2 separate regions of the Homo sapiens genome follow, and region 1 is linked to region 2. Evidence: fine-mapped expression QTL. A gene starts in region 2. The other region holds a variant in brackets. All regions are shown on one strand. Distances are from middle to middle. Region 1 overlaps GLMN (glomulin, FKBP associated protein). Region 2 holds the start of C1orf146 (chromosome 1 open reading frame 146).

The links. PIP is the estimated chance that this variant, and not a neighbour inherited with it, causes the effect.
Region 1: its variant is the best candidate, but not a certain one, in a credible set for the expression of C1orf146 in visceral fat (GTEx, PIP 0.90).

Annotation. Positions count from the first base shown.
Region 1 is chr1:92,285,880-92,291,235 of GRCh38, reverse strand. It overlaps GLMN (glomulin, FKBP associated protein), which reads left to right. Exons shown (of 19, transcript NM_053274.3): 5 at 930-1,038; 6 at 2,085-2,322; 7 at 4,644-4,746. Among named protein-coding and RNA genes, the nearest start is that of GLMN, 10 kb to the left of the region's middle. The variant C/T (reference allele first, on the strand shown) is at 2,511.
Region 2 is chr1:92,215,304-92,220,692 of GRCh38, reverse strand. C1orf146 (chromosome 1 open reading frame 146) reads right to left here and starts at 2,778. Exons shown (of 6, transcript NM_001012425.2): 1 at 2,645-2,778.

The DNA of each region.
Region 1 (5,356 bases), 71 kb before region 2:
ATTTTCTGGATAAAAGAATTGTCTAACCTCATATTAACCTCATATCGGACCCATTGATTCAGCATCTCCAGGGAGAGACCTGGGAAGCTATATCTTAACAAGTAGCCTTATCGTATAGATGTGGAATACAAGCTTTAGAGAGGTAGTTCAAGGTCACATTTATCTTTTGGCAACATTGGAACTAGATTAAAATCTCAGTCCTCTTTCCTTTGTGGTATGTTCCCTAAAAGAAAATGGAAGGCCTAGAATACAAGTGATTAAAATTGAAGTAGGAATAGGGTAGAATACAGATCAGTTGTGACTAACAACCTTAGAAAGCGACCCTGGGTAAAAGGCTAGTAGAGTTTACAGTCAATATTTGATGGCCAAGAAAGATAAATTCTGAGAAAAAGTATATTATAAGAAACTGTTTAGTGATCAGTGCAAATATACCCAAATATATATTGGAAGGAGAGCTCCATCTGTATGAGTTATTGACTATGGGAGCTGGGAGCTTTTAAAAAACCAGTCAAGTGAGATGATAAGATATGGCCAGTCAGAAAGCAATGCAAAGTTTTACCTGTTCAAAAAATACAAAAGAGATTCCAGACTAGTCTAAATAGGCTTGCAGCATGGGATTGAAAGGTCCCACCTGCTGGAGCCCCTGAGAATCTGTTAAGGCAATTTCAGAGTGGACAGGTGAAGCTCAAAGGAAACCTGAGCCTAAAGATCCATTGACTTCTTGCTTTTTAGTTTTATAGTTACTTGACCATCACAGATTCTGTGTTTTGCTCATGCATATTTTTTCAACAATTGTATAAATAATTTTAATGTTAAGCAAAAACATAATTGTATAATATTTTGTCGATACATGCCTTCTTAAAAATAGTAATAATGTGGCTTTAAATACAACTTGTATTAAACAGGTTCAATTGTGAATATTTTTATAGTTATGCAATCCAAAGGAATTATTGTTGGGTTTGCTTGAACTGATTGAAGAGCCCTCTGGAAAACAGATATCCCAAAGTATTCTTCTTTTGCTTCAGCCATTACAAACAGGTAATGAGAATTTTGATATCAGAGTACTTCTTGTTGTATCTCTAAATGCCTTGATGGTTACCTCAAAATGTCAATACTACACCAAAGTAAAGTTTACAGCTAATTAGTGAGTACTCTGCTTAAACCAATAATAGCAATGCCAATGTGAATACTGCTGCTCATAGAAAGATTATAGTATCTGGCCAGAGTGGGTACCCAGTAAATATTCTGTTGAATGTCATACTATTTTTCATGTGCTATATTGAAAACTATACCTTTTTGCCTAACCTTCCTATCTGCTGCTTAAATCTAGAATTTTCTCTCTAAACATGTTTCAAGGGTTACCTCTGTGGTGTCTGCAGTACTAAATCTGATAGCATTATGGTAGTCTGGAAGAGTATCAGGCAAGGCATTGCTCAGCCTCTGCTTTGGGAGGTTGGATTGGGCATAGCAAAGCTACTACTGAAGAATGAAACGAGGAGATATGGGATGATAAGGCTCCATGGCTGAGTGCAGTAACAGTATTGGTAGGTAATGGGTCTTAGCAACCAAGGCAGACAGTATCCATAGGAAGAGGTTATTTTTCATTTTAGGAAATTCGTTTATCTCACAATCTGATAGAGGGACCTAGAATCAGAAATTAAATTTGTTTTAAATATGAATGCCTGCCAGCTTCATACTACCTGTAATATTCAGTCTTCTAGGGAAAAAAAATCTAATAATACCACCTCCTATTTGTGTAGTGCTTTATAGTTTACAATACACTTATATTTTGTGCTTATAACAACCCAAAAACATGGAAAGAACATGTTTCTGTCTTAAGTACATAGCCTGTTACACATAGTCTGTTATAAACATAACCTAAACAGCATTTCATGGCAAGATGCTGTATTATTTTATGCACAACTAAGAAGAAAAAAACACTGCCAATTAGACTGTGATGTGTCATCTTGATTCAAGAGTTGTTAAAATGTGGGAGGAGGAAGTGTCTTATAATTCCACATTTGCCGAATTTCTTGTCCCATGTTTAGCATACTTGATGAGCGACAACTTGATCTCTGTTTTAGTGATTCAGAAACTTCATAACAAGGCATATTCAATTGGATTAGCATTGTCTACCCTTTGGAATCAGCTATCTCTTCTTCCTGTTCCATACTCAAAAGAACAAATACAAATGGATGACTATGGCCTTTGTCAGTGTTGCAAGGCCTTAATAGAGTTCACTAAGCCTTTTGTGGAAGAAGTCATTGATAACAAAGAAAACTCACTGGAAAATGAAAAGTTAAAGGATGAATTACTGAAATTGTAAGTATAATTTTAAGAACATCTCACAGTGGACTTAAGTAATTGATAGTTCAGTTATTTTATGTTTCTTCACTTTGTTTGACATGTAAATAGAAATCTAGTTTCAGATTTTGAATTTTAGAAGAATGTGGGGTTCAGTTGATACAGCATGGGAACTTGAGACATTTATATTTTAAAAAATTATAGGC[C/T]GGGTGTAGTGGCTCACACATGTAATCCCATCACTTTGGGAGACTGAAGTGAGAGGATTGCTTGGGGCCAGGAGTTTGAGACGAGCCTTGGCAACATAGTGAGACCCCCATCTCTATAAAAAAATTTAAAAATTAGCTAGATGTAGTGGCATATACCTGTAGTGCTACTGCTTGGGAAGCTGAGGCTAGAGGATGGGTTGAATCCAGGAGTGTGAGGCTGCAGTGAATGATGATTGGCCACTGTACTCCAGTCTGGGCAACAGAGCAAGACCCTGTCTTTAAGAAATTAATTAATAAAATAATTATAAAACCAAAATCCATTCATTTACTTTATATTCTTCTTTGTATTGCCTTATTCATCATAGTAGGTGAATAATGAAAGTGGGGGAAATAGATACATGTAGCTCAGGGTGAGTGTGGGAAATAGATATAGGTAGCTCTGTGGAGAAATTGTGTTTTACTCTTTCAAAGGAAGCAGCAGAAAGACCACCAGACAGAACATCCAACTGGACCACAAAAATAGTGGTAGAGTATCCACCCAATAGCATTCCCTCCATGGGTACTATAGACTAAACATCTACTGTTCAATATGGCTGTAGCACTTGACATATGGCTGGTCCAAATTCAGATATACTTTAATTATAAAATATCCCCTGGATTTTGAAGACTTGTTATTTAAAAAAAAAAAACAGTAAAATACCTCAATTTTTATATTGATAACATGTTGAAATGACAATATTTCAGATATACTGGGTTAAGATAAATTATTAAAATCATCTCTCCCATTCTTACTACTTTTTTCATGTGTCTACTAAAAGATCTTAAATTATATATGGGGCTGTGTTATATTTCTATTGGACAGTGATAGACTAGATTAATTACATGGACCAGTAATTTTTAAATTTTGGCTACTTGGGAGGCTGAGGCAGGAGGATCACTTGAGGCCAGGAGTACAAGACCAGCCTGGGCAACATAGCAAGACCTCGTCTCTAAAAAATAGAATATAAAATAATATTTTAATTTTGGAGACTAATACTATTTTTAGCTTCCTACTTGTCAGGTTAGGACATTTAAAAAAAAATTTACAGCCAGACGTGGTGGCTCGCACCTGTAATCCTAACACTTTGGGAGGTCAAGCTGGGAGATTGCTTGAGCTCAGGAGTTTGAGACCAGCCTAGGCAACATAGTGAGACCCTGTCTCTACAAAAAATAAAAAAGTTAGCTGGGCACAGTGGTGTGTGCCTGTAGTCCCAGCTACTTGGGAGGCTGTGGCAGGAGGATCCTTTGAGCCCAGGAGTTTGAGGTTACAGTGCACTATTATTGTGCCACTGTACTCCAGCCTGGGTGACAGACACCCTGTCTCAAAAAAAAAGTTTTTTACCATTTATAAAACCCATTATTTCATAAAAGAAAAGGTATTTTAACTAAAGAAATAGGAAAGGCTTAATCACAGAATAAAGTTTGGTTTTCTAAATAAAACAAATAGAGCTGTGTGAAAAAATGACTGTATTTCTTGATTTTTTCTTTGAACTAATGAAAACAACATCATAGACTAGCACCAGCCCTCAAACATTCAGAATTCAATGGAATAGTTCAGATGTAGAAGTCAGTCTTAGCATGTTGAGTCTAGCAAGGTGTTCTCATGTTCTCCCCATTACTAGTACGAACGACGTTACATCACCAGTTTTATAGACCATTGAGTTATTGATGCTTGTCTTAATCCATTTGTGCTGATATAACAGAATACCTAAGACTGGGTGATTTATAATGAACAGAAATTCATTGGTTCACAGTTCTGGAGGCTGGGAAGTCTGCAATTAAGGCGCTGGCATCTGGCAAGGGCCTTCTAGCTGTGTCATAATGTGGCTGAAGGTAAAAGGGCAAAAGGCAAAAGTGGGCTGAACTTGCCCTTTTATAACAGCATTAATCTCATCCGTGAGAGTGGAGCCCCCTTGGCCTAATTCCCACCTCCTTATGGCAGTTAAATTTCAACATGAGTTTTGGAGAGCAGAGTCATTCAAACCATAGCAGTGCTTATGTTATTTTTCAAGTAAAATTAACTTAGATTTGAAGACCTAGGGATTTTATACTTGGAAGTGTTGATTTCATAGTTACCTATTTCTTATGCCTTAGTTGTTTCAAAAGCTTGAAATGCCCTTTGCTGACAGCACAATTCTTTGAACAGTCTGAAGAAGGTGGAAATGATCCTTTCAGGTATTTTGCATCAGAAATAATAGTAAGTACAGCTAATTTAATCTGCTATAATCTTAAATGTTATCCCACTATATTCTCAGTACTGCACATGTAAATTGATACATTCATTAATAAAGAAATGTGTATTTTTTGTAGAACACACATAAACAAAAGATGGAAAATAAAACAGCAATAATTTTATTATCCAAAGATAAATATTAACATCCTCCAGGCTTTTTTCTTATATACTTATTTATAATAATACATATATATAAATTTTTCAAAGATTTTATATATATATATAATCTTGTAATCTACCTTTTTCCTCTTCAACAGTATATTATGAATATTTTTCCATTGGCTTAATAGTGTTCCATGGTATGGACTTAGTATAATGTATTTCACCTGTGCCATATAGTTCAACATTTGGATTGTTTCTAATTTTCCATTATTGTAGGACAACTCCAAGTTTTCTTTTTTTAACTGTTAAGTCTATGATAAGTAACCTAGTAATTAAATTTTTGCATACTTTTCAAATTATTTCCTTAAAACTCCTAGAGTGGAAATTCCATGCCCTGTGATAAATATTTTCAAAATAGCTCCATATTTAAGTAAATTTTATTTTAAAAGCAATTTGGCTTTATGCATCAATA
Region 2 (5,389 bases):
ACACAGAAATATTTTATAGATACAGTCATGCATTGCATATTAACTGTTCAGTCAACAATGGACTTCATATATGACTGGTGGTGCCACAAGATGATAATACTGTATTTTTACTTTTTTTACATTTAGATATGTTTAGATATGCAGGTTGCCTACAGTATTCAGTACATTAACATACTATACATATTTGTAGCCCAGGAGCAATAGGCTATACCATATAGCCTAGATGTCTAGTAGACTACACCATCTAAGTTTGTGTAATTACACTCTATGATGTTCTCACAATGACAAAATCACCTAATGATGCATTTCTCAGAACACATCCCCATCATTAAGCAATGCATGACTGTATGTGTATATACCCAGATTAGTACACACACATCTATTTCTTTACTCTGTTAGCTGAAAGGGCCTAAAACAAACGACACCCTAGCACCTGGGTGCTAGCAACAAGTACACCTAGCACCCAGATTTTGGTTTCTAAATAGCATTCTCCAAAAAAGGAACCAGGGCTCCTTGGAGAAATGGTCGATTCTAGGACTGGGACAGGAAACATACAAGATGAGTCCAGAGTAGTGCCAAAAAGAAAGTACTTAAAAACAAAAACAAACAAACAAAAAAACCCCACACAGATGGCATTGATGGGGCATGTCATAAGAGCACAGGAACCAACTGAAAGAGCTCCCAATGGCTAAAGCTGGAACAATTTGAGCAAAATAAAATAGCATTATAATCCAAAGTATAAAGTGAATATCCATGAGTCTATACTGATATAAAGGTTTGAACAAACCAATAAATGGAGAAGAGACAAATCTGTGCAGAATAATTCCAAAAAATTTATGTATATATACTCCAACCTTAAGAACAGGAGCATGGAGCTGGGCACAGTGGCACACACCTATAATTCAAGCTACTCGGGAGACTGAAGCAGGAGGATTGCTTAAGGCCAAGAGTTTGAGGCTGCAGTGCATTATGTTTGCACCTGTAAATAACAACTGTACTCCAGCCTGGGCAACATAGCAAGACCCTGTCTCTAAAAATATTAAACAGTGGGGGTGGGGAATATAACTCCCCATTCCTTAGGTGTGGCTGCACACCCAGGAGGTGGAGGTTGCAGTGACCTGAGATCCCATTCCTGCACTCCAGCGTGGGTGATAGAGCGAGACTCTGTCTTAAAAAAAAAAAAAAAAAAAAAAAAAGAAAGAGAAAGTCACTTTCAGTGATGGTAAGTTAGTATCTCCCAAGGTGATTTCATTCTACTTTTCAACAACTTTAATAATTAGAAAGTTCTTCCTGCTGAGTTGAAACCAGCTGCTCTCTAATTTCCTCATTTATTGCATGAATGAATGAATGAGAAGTTAACTAGCTCCATGAGAGCAGGGACACATTCTGATTCTGTTTTACCTTACTCAGCACCTGGCACTCAGTAGACACTCAAAGATTTGTGAATGAGTAAATGGTGAGTTGGCTGGGGGAAGGGCTTCAACTTCTATAACCCCCCCTACACATACTTACTAATACACCCACATAGCTATGAATACATATATGCAAAGGTTACAAGAACTTTTTGGAGTAGTTACTGGTATGTATGTGGATATGTATGTTTGTGCCTATCAGTTAGTAATCCATAAATGTTCATTTAAATCTTTACACCCTTATACATAGGTTTTAAAAACAATTTAACTAAAGCTAAGAGAAGTAAAGTAATCACGTGCACAATAAGTGAGAAAGGAGTGGGGTCAGTCGTGTCCCAAGTCCCTGTTAAAGGTGAGGAATGAATCAGAAACCTGGGGCTGGGGCAGTGCCTTCTCAGCATTTCTGGGGAAAAGCTCCTCGACCAGCAGCCAAGCAAGGACTGTGTGGCTTTGGGCAAATCACGTCACCTCTGGTTAGGCTGCATCCTCACCTGAAAACAAAAAGCTTCTAAACGGGAGGTGAACGCTGAGCGTGCAGGGACAGAGGGGAGGGGCAGGCGCGGGGGACGGGACCGGGGGACCAGAAGGTGGAGGAGGGACAGTCACTAATGGGCACCTGGGGGACGACAGAATCTGGACAACAAACTCCCGTGACACGAGTTTAACCTATGTAACACACCTGCACACGGACTCCTGAACCTAACATAAAAGTTAAATTAAAAATAAAAACAAAAAGCGTGGGCCCAGTGGCCTCTTAAACCTTTGCCAGTTCCAAGGCCCTGGTATTCTGGGCTTTTGTTGCTACTGTTTTGTTTTTTCCAAGCTCTGGAGTGTTTGCAAATTTAAGTTTAACACTGCCCCATCATCTCCAGCAAGTCACTTTCCCTGCTCAGTCTCCTCACGGGTCCAGTGAGGCGCCGGCCTACAAGGATCTTCACGGTCTCTTCCATTCTTTACTTTTCGGAGTGACCAACAAAGCCTAAAGCAAATAAAATTTACACTCGCAGGTGGGTGACGGACTTCTGACAGGGAAAACCCCGAGGGAGCCCTTTCCACACCGATTCTCAAGGGGAAAATAGGGTGGGCAGGATCTCCTCCCCTCACCCGCCAAAGCCCTGAGGTAAAGCTCTGAGCTCGGCAAGTCAGAGAGCACTACGCCGGCGAAGAACGAAGAAAGAAAAACGCGAAGAGACAGGTCTGCCGAGGCCTCATCCCCAGCGCTGCAAACCCACCTGCTCACCAGGTCCTCAGAGACCGCTCAGGGTTTCCCAAACTTCCAGAACGTTCCGTGAGCAGTGAGAGGCGCCGCCGGTAGGGCAGAGCGCCCAGGGTGCCTGGGGCAGGGTTCTGCAGTCGCTGGGCTTCTGCGCAACCGCAGACCCCGCAAACCTTTTCCGCGCTTCTGGCTCCCTAGAGCGAGGTTTGCAGGAAGCCGGAAGTGGTTAAGAAGATACAAGATTTGTAGGCCTGGCGCGGTGGCTCATGCCACTAATCCCAGCACTTTGGGAGGCCGAGGTGGGCGGATCACGAGGTCAGAAGTTTGAGACCAGCGTACCAACATGGTGAAACCCCGTCTCTACTAAAAATGCAAAAATTAGCTGGGCATGGAGGCGCGCACCTGTAATCCCAGCTACTCGAGAGGCTGGGGCAGGAGAATCGCTTGAACCCAGGAGGCGGAGGTTGCAGTGAGCGAGATCGCACCACTGCACTCCAGCCTGGGTGACAGGGCAAGACTCCGTCTCAAAAAAAAAAAAAAAAAAAAAACAAGATTTTTGCGTGTTAGACTCAGTTGTCCGGAATTGATTTTCACAGTTTTCTAAAATTCAGGCTCAATTCTTAGATTTCTGTCATTTGCAACATAAAATCAAAGTGGCCTTCAGTTTATCCAAATTATGAAAAAGGTAGATTTTCATGAGCAGCTGTCAAAAGGACATACAGGGGCCTGTGTGTTTGCTTTTTAGGACCCCATTATGTTCAGACCTAATTGAAGCTCAGCAATTTATTAAGTGTCACAATCATAAAAATGTAAAAAGACAAAGACCACTACTTGCCTTGAGCCTAATGGTTAGGATACAAAACTATGTGCCTTACTTTGTAAAACAGGTATTCCTGTAGAAAGAAAGGTGCTCCAGGAAAAATCCTTTGGAGCACACTTGTGATGTGCTGTTAATTTTTCCCTGTGATAACCATTTTGTATGTTTGGCATTTTGTATAACTGATATTAAAATTAGGTGCACTCTTGCTGCCTCATTTGGGCAGTTTGTTAAGCCACCACACCTGGCCTCTTGTTTATAAATTACCTGGTCTAAGGTATTTTGTTATCGTGGCCATAATGGACTAAGACAATTCCTCCTCTCTTCAAATCTCCAGAACTTATTCCTCATCTTCATTTTCGGCTGAAGTGAAATAGTTACTGCTAATATTTCATAAAGATTTATGATTTTAATAGTATTTAGTATTTAATATTAAATACTATTCAAATGAGATAAATAAAAGCATCCAGAAACGAAGTTCCACAGATGTCCACCTACCAATCTACCAACATCTATATGCCAGATTCTGCTTTCTTTCCAACTATAGTAGGTGAACTGTATAATCCTATGTAAGGCCAGCCCTCAAATGGACAACAGAGCCCATCTCTTCTTGCTTACCCAAGAATATAGCTCCACCGGCCAGTCGCGGTGGCTCACGCCTGTAATCCCAGCCCTTTGGGAGGCTGAGGCAGGTGAATCACAAGGTCAGGAGATCAAGATCAGCCTGGCCAATATGGCAAAACCTCATCTCTACTAAAAATACAAAAAATTAGCCAGGTGTGGTGGTGCACACCTGTAGTCCCAGCTACTTGGGAGGCTGAGGCAGGAGAATTGCTTGAACCTGGGAGGCAGAGGTTGTAGTGAGCCAAGATCATGCCACTGCACTCCAGCCTGAACAACAGAGCAAAACTGTCTCAAAAAAAAAAAAATATATATATATATATATATATATATATATCCACCAATTATTTCCTGACTCTTACAATCTTCAATTTTCTCCTCTCCACTGAATAGTCTCAATAGCAAATAAATATGCCATTATTTCTCTCATCTTAAAATCTCTTAATCTCCTCTCCCACACCAGCTAACAATCCATTTCTCTGCTCTCTTTACAGAAAAACTCAAAAGGATTGTCTATAATTTCTGTTGCTAATGCCCTTTTTTCCCATTCTTTATCAAATTTATTCCAATCAGACTTTTTCATTTCCACCATACCACAGAAATTGCTCATGTCAAAGTCATTGGTAAATCCAGCAAACAGCTGTCAATACTAATTTTACTTGGTCAATCAGCAGTACTTGTTACAGTTGATCATTCCCTCCTCCTGGAAAAACTTTCTTTCCTTGGCTTCCCCATATCATGCTCTCATGGTTTCCCTCCAGCCTCACTGGCCATTTATCAGCATCCTTATTGGTTCTTCCTCAAAACCCAACCTTTTAATCTTGCTTGGAGTGCCGCAAGCTCAGTCCTTGGACCTCTTTTCTTCTCTGGGTATATTTGTTACTTTGGTGTCCTCCTTAACTCATAGTGTTAGATATCATCCATGTGCTGACAAATTCCAAATATCTATCTACAGCCCTGGCCTTTCCCCTGAACTCCAAACTGGTATAACCAATTGCTGTTTAATATTTCCAGTAATAGACATCTCAAATTTCACATGTCCAAAACTGAACTTCTGACTTCCCCTCCCAATGCTGCACCATCTATAGTCTTCCTTATCTCAATTAAAGATTACACATATTTTATTTAAATACTTTGACTGTCTTACATACCCTTTTCAGCCATCAGGAAGTCTTGTTGCCTGTACTTTCAAAATATATCCAGAGCCTGACCACCTTTCTGGTTTGAGCCACCATCAGCTTTCACCTGGATTATTGCAATAGACTCCTAACAGGTTTCCGTTTTCACCTTGCCCCTAAAGTCTTTTTTCAACATAGCAACCAG